Linked DNA regions of Homo sapiens. The protein of the gene in region 1 binds, or shares a complex with, the protein of each later gene. Links are inferred from orthologs where the notes say so. Each region holds a gene or a part of one and is shown in the gene's direction. Other genes may lie near its edges.

Region 1 (7,737 bases):
GTGCTTTGAGTCGGTCCACTCCCTGCTGCAGAAGAATGGCTGATCCACCCATAGATCTGGTGATAGTAACCAGGAGCTCCAGTCAATAGCACAATGGCAGAACTCAGAGCTACAGCCCATCCATTTTTACAAGCGCTCAAGCCATATTATGTAAAGCAGGCGGAAGGGGGCATACACTTTTCTTGAGGATGAAAATGAATGCATTTAGTAATGAAAATGCATAGTGTGGTATTTAAAAATTACATGAGCTCTGGAATCAAATAACAAATGGTTCTGCCTGAGAGACCAGAACACCTTCTTTCACTGATTTTTTTTTCCTTCCCATCCCTGAAACAGAGCCTTGAACTTTGAAACCACAGTACCTTGTTCCAGCGTGGAAAGCAGCGTGGCACTTCCCGGTGGTGAAAGCACCCCAGCTTGAAAGGGTGAAAACACCTTCTCCCAGATAGTCTCCCTTTGTTTAGCCAGTGCTTTTGCCTTAAGGAAATCAAATGAAGGTATGCTCCTTGGTTGGCTGCTGAATCTGTCCTTCCTTGTCAGCTTTGCCCAGAGCAGCAGGCTTTGAGCTCTGGGAGGATTTCCAGGTGGCAGCAGAACAACGGTCCCATAGGCTGGAGCCTGGCACGCTTTCCCTTTTAACCAGTGGCAGAGGCTGCACTTTGCTGGTGTAATTATGCAACCTAGTGTAAAGTCCACATGGGTGGGGATAGGGGGTAGGCAAGGCAGGACTGTAAGCTGGCTCAGCACTCTGATTGGGTTTTTTGACTGTTTTTCTAGCTTTTCTTACCCTTTTCTCTCCTGCCCCCTCATCTCCTCCTCTTCCCTCCTTTTCCCTCCCCTTCTCTCTAATCCCTTCATCTTTGTCAGCCTCCACCCTCAGGGATCCCTAACTCAGGAAGCTACCTCTTATCAAATATTTTGGCTTGCCTCCAACTGCTAGTGGCAGGCAGTTCTGGCCCTTGTCTGCTATCTGAGCGATTTTCTTCTCCACCGGTTGTTTATTTCTCTAATCTAGTTGGAATTGGAATCGTGTGTAGAATCCAGAGGAAGAAAATCCAAAAGCAAAAAATGGATCCTTTCCCTAGTGAGATTGCCCCTGTGGGCTAAAATAGAAATGGAAAGAGACTTGGATTCTTTTCCCTTGAAAAGTGACATTATGAAAGAGCAGGAGAAACAGCATTAGTGTACAGGAAAGCCCAAGGCACACTATATCACTCCTCAGATATTGGACATCACTCTGAGTCCTCTATTTTCTGCTTAATTGGGATTATAAATGCTATTTTTGCCCCGAATGTACCTGCCATCTTGGTCGTGCCCAAGTGGCTCTGAACAGATACCATCTGCAGGACCTCCACAGCCAGCCATGCAACAGGAAGCTGCAGACTCCCAGACTCCAGTGTTCTTGTTTTCTGAGAGGGAGCCCTGAGAATGGTAGAGAAGCAAAAAACACAGGAAAGAAAAGAAAAAAGCTGGATGGAGTAATTACATGATAGGGTTACCTTGTGCACGTGAAAGCAAAATGTAGGGATACAAGCAATAACCCCTCCGGTACTGCACAGTCTTTGATAACACAATAGCCTTCTGTTATTTCAAGGCATGTTCCTTGAAACCTTCCTTAAGGTTTTCCCACTACTTACTGGGTTGTAACATATTTATTTTATATGTCCTTTCTTAACTGATATTCACAAAGAATAGGAATGATAGATGTGTGTATATGAGCAAAAGCATTTATACATGCTTTCTTTTTTTTTTTTTTTTTAGTGTATGAAATAGCGGCTGACTTTTGTGACAATTTTCCACCCAGTTTTGTGATAGTAATTTCGCTGCATTCTTCAACTTAGATGGCAAGTCCTCTTAGCAAGGCTGGCCTAATTCTATGTTTTCTATGGCACCTAGTCACTATGGCTGTGCAAGAGCCATTATTACCCAAAGTACCATAATAATGGTCATGTCCTCCTATGACGTTATTGTTTCCTATCTGTCAGGACATTAATTGTCTTCTAACTTGCTCTAAAATTGGTAGCATGGCACACTGCCAAGACTAGAGAGAAGCAAGCTGCTGGTGATATATTAAAAGGCTGTGTAAAAGGACATATTGGTATTTGCTTTTTCTTGGGGCATCTTCACATTTGCATTACTTCACATGTTATGGGATGTTAGCTCAGGCTTGCCTTATGTCTTGGCGTCTATCTTATCATGGTCAATGTCTGATCTTTCCTTCAGCTGAATGATTCAGACATCTCTAAGTTATTTTGGCTTTTCCACTTTCCTTTCACAGGCTTTTTGTGAGTCATTGAATTGAATGGGAGGTTATTTCTAAATTGGAAGGTGAGGAAGAGAGGAGGGGGAGGAAAGTTCCGGAAAATAACTAGGAAAAGGCACTTTATTGTTATGTATAGTTACTGGAGGAATAATTTCTGCTTAGTCTGGTGATAGAAGTATGTACTTTATTTAAACTTGACTAAAAATATAGGCTAGAAAAAAGACAATATTTTTCTGAATAATAAACCATACAGTTTTAGACTCTTTGTAGCTTGCTCTGCAAAGAACAAGGAGGTTAGTAAATAGAAGAAATATGAGACAAAGGGTTAGCAGAAAGAAGAAAGAGACAAAGCACATTTCCAAAGTCCACATCCTTGAGGTGAATGCCTCCTTGACAGTGTCTTTTTTTTTTTTTTTTTTTAAGACAGAGTCTCACTCTGTTGCCCAGGCTGGAGTGCAGTGGCACCATCTGCAGAGACAGGGGTTTCACCATGTTAGTCAGGCTGGTCTCAAACTCCTGACCTCAGGTGATCTGCCCGGCTCGGCCTCCCAGAGTGCTGGGATAACAGGCATGAGCCACCGCACGGCCTGACAGTGTCTTAAACTATCCCTGGGTGTTGTTTCATGGCCCATGGGTATATGTATCATAGGTGGGGTTGTGAGAAAGTACATTTAAATCTGATTTAGAAACTGAAAGAGTAATCAGACCAGCATTTTGTTATTTAGGAGCAGGAAAAGTGGGTGAAAAAAAAGGAAAAACAAAAAGCTAATGATGAATATATTTCTAGGAGCACAAGAGTTTTTATAGCAACATTAGATTTCTCAAAAATGCCTACTGTGATTTGTACCCAAGTGAATAAAAAATGCAATCATTTATTCTTGTGCATTGTGCCAAGTGAGGAAAAAAAAAAAACACACACACACACAACCCGGCAATTCATTCAATGGCCCTAATTTAGACTGCTAGGAAGAGGTTTAGAAAAAAAAAAGAGAGAGAGAGAGAGAAGCTTTTAAAGTATCTGACACACAGCTAGTAGGGCTATTTAAGAACTGCTGAACAGAAAAACAAAGTGGCAGTGAGAGGTGGGGGAAAGCAGAATTCTCATTTCCAGAGCATCATAAAGGGTATAATGTGGCCCGCTTATTAGAAAGTTGCTGGCCGGGCGCGGTGGCTTACGCCTGTAATACCAGCACTTTGGGAGGCCGAGGCGGGCGGATCACCTGAGGTTGGGAGTTCGAGACTAGCCTGACCAACATGGAGAAACCCCGTCTCATGCCTATAATCCCAGCTACTCGGGAGGCTAAGGCAGAAGAATCGCTTGAACCTGGGAGGCGTAGGTTGCGATGAGCCGAGATAGCACCATTGCACTCCAGCCTGGGCAACAAGAGAGAAACTCCGTCTCACAGAAAAAAAAAAAAAAAAAAAAAGTTGCTAATGGCTGTCTGGTCAATTGGCAGGGGTCAGCCAGGAGTGGATCTGGAAGCTGGAGAACTCTCAATACGCCACTTCAGTTTATTGACGACATTTATAATTGCAACCGAAGTTGACTGATTTCTGCTAAATGAAAGTTTGCGCTTTGCCCTTTAGCATTGAGGCTCCTGGAAAGAACTTCAATGAAATTGGATGCATTGAGACCAAAGAAAAGAAGGGGACATTTTTATCTCTCTGATACCTTTCTCCCCAGGGCTTGGAAACACTTCTTAAACACAACCTCTAATGTTGGTGTTTTGTAAGTACTACCCCTATGAATAAAGCTAGCAGAGATAAGCTTCTCCTTGCAGGAAGTGAGCTGGAGAAGTGGAAAAGTTTACAGAGAAAACTCTACAACAAAGACTTAACCCTTCCCGGGTAACCACGAATGTGAGCGTCTGCCCCTCCTTTGCTTTCTACTGCGCAACCAAACTGTGCACAAGCGTGAATCAACCTTAACCGTCACGTCTCTTGCCAGTTAGCTTAACAGACACTTTTAGCAGCCTATCATAACTTCGAATTGCCCAACCCTCAACCAATTACAACTAAAGCTTGGGCTAGGACGCTCCAGGTCCGGGCGGGGGCGAATACCGGGTTTAGGAAAAGGGGCGGTAAAGAGCGATGACGGGCGGGTATACTAAACCAATCAGAGAGGAGAGCTGCCGCCCCACTATCCAATGGATAGGTTAGAAGTATGAAAGAGGGTGGGCCTGTTGTCATGGGGGAGGTGGTGGCGCTTGGTGGCCACTGGCGGCCGAGGTAGAGGCAGTGGCGCTTGAGTTGGTCGGGGGCAGCGGCAGGTGAGTGCCGGTAACGCGGGTCAGAGATCTGGGGGCCGTCGCGGGGCGGAATCTCCAGCTCAGCACTCCGGAGGCGGAGGCCGGAGGAAGGGGGCCTGGACTTCGGGTCGGGGCCCGGGCCGGGGCCGGGGCCAGGGCGGAGGCGGCGGGGGCGGCGGCGAGTTCGCGCTGACTGGGCTAGGGGGAGAGGGGCTGGGCTTCTGGCTGCGGAGTTCTCCCGAGGAAGGTAGGCTACGGCCGGACCCGCGCGGGTCAGGCCAGGAGGTCCCTTGGGACGTCCAGCTGCTCCGGTCTAGCGCGCTGACCGGCGGCCACTGTGTGAGGAGTAGGTATCTGAGGAAACGGAAGCGGCCAGGGTCCCAGAGAGGGGGTGACCTGTAACGACCTGCTTCAAGGGCGGGGTGTCTTGGGAATACCCAGGACGGCTTGGGTGCCAGGGAGAAAAGGAATCCGGGAAGCCCGGCAGCGGCCGGTGAGGAGAGAGCGGGGTGGGGGGCAGGGGAACTGGGAGTGGCCCCGGTCCGAGGGAGGTAGGAAGGCCGAGGGTGGCCAGGGTCCCGGGTGACAGGGAGCAGACTTGCTCCAAGTAGGGGCGTCTGAGGAAACGCTCGGAGGGGGTTGGGGACCCTCCTGAGAAAAGCGGCTGTCCAAGGGAGGGGGCTCCTGGAGAGATGAGGAGCAGCAGGTCTTCGGAGGGTCGGACGAGTAGAGATCTTGCACCGCCTGGGGGAAGAACCGGAGCTCCCTGCGCCCCCATAGCTGAGCTGGGATGGGAGACCCAACTGGCCTGGCCGCTCCGGCTCTGAGGATCCCTAAGGGACCAGGAAAGAAGTCCTCGAGGAGTGGCTCGCGTTTGAGACCGGGGTGAGGAGCCAGCAGGGGAGTGGAAGTTCCCTCGGTCGGAGAGGAGTCATGCAAAATGGGACGGAGATGGGCGGAGGTGGGAGAGAATCCCTATAGGAGGGGATAAGGTAGAGAAAGAAAGTTGCCCGAGGAGAGAGTAATGGTTTCGTGGAACTGGCTAGGACAGTAGATATATGAGAAATTAACAGTGGAGCCATGTAGGTTCACAGGTCTTCACAAATAGAAGAAACTTCAGTTTCGTAATTAATATCAAGATGACATCTAGGACCAAAGCAAAGCTCCTAAAAGCAAGGTTAAGTGACTTGTTTTAGAAAAGAAATTTGTTTTAGGATGATGGCAGTAATATTAGGAAATAGGTTCATTGACAGGGTGGGGAATTTGGGAGGGAAAAGGGGAGGAGTAGCTGAACTAAAGGAGTAGAAGTAAATACTTATCAGAAAGAGGGTAGGCATACTCGGCTAAAGTGAAAAGAAGTTTTGAGTTCTAGTTCCACCACTTAGCTAAGTTTCTGTGCAGTTTCCTCATCAGAATACTAATAGTAATAGTTCCTACTTTATAAGGTGGTGGTGGTGTTTTTTTTTTCATGTGAGTTGGTATTTGTAGAGCTTTTAGGATAGTGACTGGCACATAGTCGTGTGTACTGGATTGTTCAATAGACGATAAAGACCTGACTTCTTAAATAGAAGGTAAAGACCTGGCTCGCAGATGTTAGCTTGCATCAAAATCACCTGGAGGGCTTGGTAAAATGTAGATTGCTTGGCCCCACCTGGGGGTTTCAGTAGGTCTGGGGTGGGGCCCAATAATTTATATTTATCTCAAATGATGATCACGTTGGTCAGAGGACCACACTTTAAGAACCACTTACTTTAATGAAACCGGTAATAATGGTAGCAACTTTAAAATACCTGCTAAAGAGACAGGTAGAGGCAAATTGCCTAAAAGATCCTATTATAAAGGATACTCATTTTTAGCCTGTGTTTTTCAAACTGTGGATTGTGATTTATTAGTAATTTATAAAATCAATGTTGTGAGTTTTTACCTGCATTGAAAATAAAATGTAGAACAGAATAAACTGACATTGCATTTGGTAAGGAAAAGTATTGTTTTGGGAAACTTTTCTCCTACATGTATGTACTAGGTCACAATGTAAAGTGTATTTCTTTTTTTGAGTTCCTGGCCAAAGGATAAAATATATTTCTTACAGTTAAAAAAGTCTGAAAGCTGGGTGCGGTGGCTCACGCCTATAATCCCAGCACTTTGGGAGGCCAAGGCGGGCGGATCACTTGAGGTCAGGAGTTCAAGATCAGCCTGACCAACATGGTGAGACCCCCATCTTTAAAAAAAATACAAAATTAGCTGGGCGTGGTGGCGCGTGCCTGTAATCCCAGCTACTTGGAAGGCTGAGGCTGGAGAATTGCTTGAACCCCGGAGGTGGAGGTTGCAGTGAGCCGAGATCATGCCATTGCATTCCAGTCTGGGCAACAAGAGTGAAACTCCATCTTAAAAAAAAAAAAAAAGGTTTTTTTGGGAGTATTATATTCCATTAAATTTCTTCAGTTTCTGATTTGGTTCCTCCTGTGTTTGTCTTGTCACATATTGTGTTATGCCTCTGACTCTGGAACTTTTTTGGATATTGAGAATCTTTGGCATGAGAACTTAAGGGAATCTGAGGCAGAGAAATTGAATGGTGTTTCTCAGATGTTGTCCGCTTTTGTTTCACTTGTGCCCTCTTGTTCACCCTTTCTTTTTTATCACTGTACCGTAAAGCATTGTTTGTAAAAGCCTGAGTATACACAGACATATTGACAGTAAACAACACTGAAATGGACTGACTTGAGAAAATTTCATGTATAGAAAATAAGCAAAAACAAAGTAAGAAACACTGCAAAAGAGAAAAATGAAAAGATATTTCCTTTTTAGAGAGTAAAAATATTAAGTATTTCTTATCCTTACACTAATATAAAACATATACAGATATTTTTAAAGGAACTAGATATACAGTTTCTAGGTCTTTGTAGAGAAAAGAAATAGTGGTAATATGTGACAGCAAAATGCACCTGGGATAGAGGCTTAACTACAAAGTAAATCATTTATTAAGAGGGAGCTTTTGTTTAATGGTTTTCTCCCTTGAGAATAAACTGGATGTGGTACATGTTGTAAACTTAACTTGTTTGAGGAACCTAAATGTAATTTACAGCGTGTTTTTAAAAAGAATATGTATGTTTTATCTGTACGTGGTTTGATTTTTCTTCCATTGAAAGCTAGATGGTTTATATTTAGGAGTTGATTTAGATCTGTTTTTATGGCTGTTAAGAACAGGAAGCAGTATTGAAAACTGAA
Region 2 (3,595 bases), on another chromosome or scaffold:
TGCTGAACCTAGTACGACAAACTGGATAGTTTAAAATAATAAATGTATTCTCTCATAGTTCTGGACGCTAGAAGTTTGAAAGTGAGGTGTAGGCAGGCCACGCTCCCTCTGAAGGCTCTAGGGAAGAATCCTTCCTAGGCACTCTCCCAGCTTCTGGTGGCTTCTGGCAACCCTTGGTGTTCCTTGGCTTGTAGATGCGTCACTCCAGTCTTTGCCTCCACTGTCACATGGCATTCTTCCTGTGTGTGTGTCAAAATCTCACTATCCTTATAAGGACACCTGTAATTGCACTTAGGGCACACCCTAATGTCCAGTATGACTTCATCTTAACTAATTACATCTGCAAAGACCCTATTTCCAAATAAGCTCACATTCACAGGAACCTAGGGTCAGAACTTCAGCGTATCTTTTGGCGGGGGATACAGTTCAACCACTGCAAAGTCTAATAATGCTCTTCCTACTAACTGCATAGCTAGTTCACTTGTAGTTGGCATCATGGAGAACTAAGGGAAGTTAAAGCTTGTGAAATTTAACTCTTCCACTTAAAATAATTGATGCTTCCATCCTTGATGACCAGAGTTTCCTGTGAGGTAGGTCAGAGTACAACTTCCTGCTGAGTAGCTGTGCTTCCTTTCACTAGGAGCTGGGGGTACTTTCATGTCACTTATGAATTGTTCTTCATTTTGGTTTGGGAGAGGGCTGGGAGTATCAGTTAGGGTTCCATGTGTAGCCACACAGGGCGAAGCTCTGGCCACTGGATCTGTGTGATGTTCCATCTGATCTGTGAAGCCCCACCATCTGTTAATGTGTATTTGAGGAGTGGTTGGTTCTTTCCAGAGTATAAAGCTGGAAGCAGAGTCTGGAACACTTCCAGTCTGTTGTCTTTGAACATTTGACAAAGGGACCGTACGATCTTACTGTTCAGAGTATCTTTTTTTTTTTTTTTTTTTTCTTTTGAGACGGAGGCTTGCTCTGTCGCTAGCTAGGCTGGAGTGCAGTGGCACGATCTGGGCTCACTGCAACCTCCGGGTTCAAGAGTTTCTCTTGCCTCAGCCTCCCAAGTAGCTGGGACTACAAGCGCGTGCCACCACGCCCAGCTAATTTTTGTATTTTTAGTAGAGATGGGGTTTCACCATGTTGGCCAGAATGGTCTCGATCTCTTGACCTCATGATCTGCCCGCCCTTGGCCTCCTGAAGTGCTGGGATTACAGGCATAAGCCATCGCGCCCGGCCTGTTCAGAGTATCTTTTGCAGAATGGCTGAAGCTCGAGGTTTTCTTCTTCACCATTATGTACTGCTGCTGTACAACCTTTTCATAATTATCCTTAGTCCCATTCCTCTACCAAGGTGAAAGCAACATCTTATCAGACCCGAATTATGAATTTCTCAAGCCCCTATGATTTTCTGTTTTGGGTGCCAAGTATTTATCTCTTCTGTTAGACTATAGTCTTTCTTCACATAGGGTTCATGTCTATATTGGTTTTATCCATGGGTGGTTTTTATTCTCCAGAGTGACTGACCTGTTCGTAATTCCGTTCTTGAGAAGGATTGTTGATTATGTTGAAGGGAAGGCTTCTTACCAAGATTTTCAGATTTTGCTTTCAATGTTTATCTTTTTGGGGTTTTGCAGGTGACAGAGCTGAATGAACCTCTCTCCAATGAAGATCGAAATCTCCTCTCTGTGGCCTACAAGAATGTGGTTGGTGCCAGGCGATCTTCCTGGAGGGTCATTAGCAGCATTGAGCAGAAAACCATGGCTGATGGAAACGAAAAGAAATTGGAGAAAGTTAAAGCTTACCGGGAGAAGATTGAGAAGGAGCTGGAGACAGTTTGCAATGATGTCCTGTCTCTGCTTGACAAGTTCCTGATCAAGAACTGCAATGATTTCCAGTATGAGAGCAAGGTGTTTTACCTGAAAATGAAGGGTGATTACTACCGCTACTTAGCAGAGGTCGCTTCTGGGGAGAAGAAAAACAGTGTGGTCGAAGCTTCTGAAGCTGCCTACAAGGAAGCCTTTGAAATCAGCAAAGAGCAGATGCAACCCACGCATCCCATCCGGCTGGGCCTGGCCCTCAACTTCTCCGTGTTCTACTATGAGATCCAGAATGCACCTGAGCAAGCCTGCCTCTTAGCCAAACAAGCCTTCGATGATGCCATAGCTGAGCTGGACACACTAAACGAGGATTCCTATAAGGACTCCACGCTGATCATGCAGTTGCTGCGAGACAACCTCACCCTCTGGACGAGCGACCAGCAGGATGAAGAAGCAGGAGAAGGCAACTGAAGATCCTTCAGGTCCCCTGGCCCTTCCTTCACCCACCACCCCCATCATCACCGATTCTTCCTTGCCACAATCACTAAATATCTAGTGCTAAACCTATCTGTATTGGCAGCACAGCTACTCAGATCTGCACTCCTGTCTCTTGGGAAGCAGTTTCAGATAAATCATGGGCATTGCTGGACTGATGGTTGCTTTGAGCCCACAGGAGCTCCCTTTTTGAATTGTGTGGAGAAGTGTGTTCTGATGAGGCATTTTACTATGCCTGTTGATCTATGGGAAATCTAGGCGAAAGTAATGGGGAAGATTAGAAAGAATTAGCCAACCAGGCTACAGTTGATATTTAAAAGATCCATTTAAAACAAGCTGATAGTGTTTCGTTAAGCAGTACATCTTGTGCATGCAAAAATGAATTCACCCCTCCCACCTCTTTCTTCAATTAATGGAAAACTGTTAAGGGAAGCTGATACAGAGAGACAACTTGCTCCTTTCCATCAGCTTTATAATAAACTGTTTAACGTGAGGTTTCAGTAGCTCCTTGGTTTTGCCTCTTTAAATTATGACGTGCACAAACCTTCTTTTCAATGCAATGCATCTGAAAGTTTTGATACTTGTAACTTTTTTTTTTTTTTGGTTGCAATTGTTTAAGAATCATGGATTTATTTTTTGTAACTCTTTGGCTATTGTCCTTGTGTATCCTGACAGCGCCATGTGTGTCAGCCCATGTCAATCAAGATGGGTGATTATGAAATGCCAGACTTCTAAAATAAATGTTTTGGAATTCAATGGGTAAATAAATGCTGCTTTGGGGATATTATCTCTGTTTGGTCTTGATTTTTCCCCCCTCGAGGAACTGTTTAACCAGTCACAAATTGTGGTTTGAATCTCTCAAACATGGAAGCATTTGTAGTACATTATCCAAGTTTTCCTCCCCTCTCATTACATTACATATTTTGCAGCACACACATAGGATTCATAGATTTTAAATAGTTTTCTGTGAACCCAGCTAACATAGCCTCTCTGATCAATTTTCCTGATAACTGGTGCTTTTTAATGAGCCTCGCAGAACAAAATGCAGTCTTCCACAGTATAGCACCTCTGAAACATTGTGGGCTCTGTTGAACTTGAGAGTGTATTTAACACTGAAGGTAAATACGGAGCTTATACACGTCCTCAAGTTTTCTTAATGTAATAAGATACTAGGGGCACAACTTGCACCCCTGAAATCTTTAGTGATTATTGTTAAGCATTTAGTATTCTTTAAAATAGAAAAGCAAACCTCATTGAGTTAAAAAGCCTAACCTACCCCTTAAACAC

The links.
Region 2: the proteins of NUMB (region 1) and YWHAH are in contact, whole or in part, in a crystal structure (PDB 5YQG), measured with the Mus musculus proteins. The link is inferred for Homo sapiens from one-to-one orthologs. Residues at the interface, in NP_001129547.1 of Mus musculus: Gln274, Gly275, Ser276, Phe277; in NP_035868.1 of Mus musculus: Arg57, Arg132, Tyr133, Leu177, Asn178, Val181, Glu185, Ile222, Leu225, Asn229.

What each region holds. Positions count from the first base shown.
Region 1 is NC_000014.9:73,455,289-73,463,025, reverse strand, and holds the start of NUMB (protein numb homolog), read left to right. Parts: upstream 1-4,479; 5' UTR 4,480-4,533; intron 4,534-5,292; exon of another isoform or gene 5,293-5,397; intron 5,398-7,737. UniProt on the Homo sapiens protein: Regulates clathrin-mediated receptor endocytosis. Plays a role in the process of neurogenesis.
Region 2 is NC_000022.11:31,954,509-31,958,103, forward strand, and holds the end of YWHAH (14-3-3 protein eta), read left to right. Parts: intron 1-1,630; coding exon 1,631-2,284; 3' UTR 2,285-3,095; downstream 3,096-3,595. UniProt on the Homo sapiens protein: Adapter protein implicated in the regulation of a large spectrum of both general and specialized signaling pathways. Binds to a large number of partners, usually by recognition of a phosphoserine or phosphothreonine motif.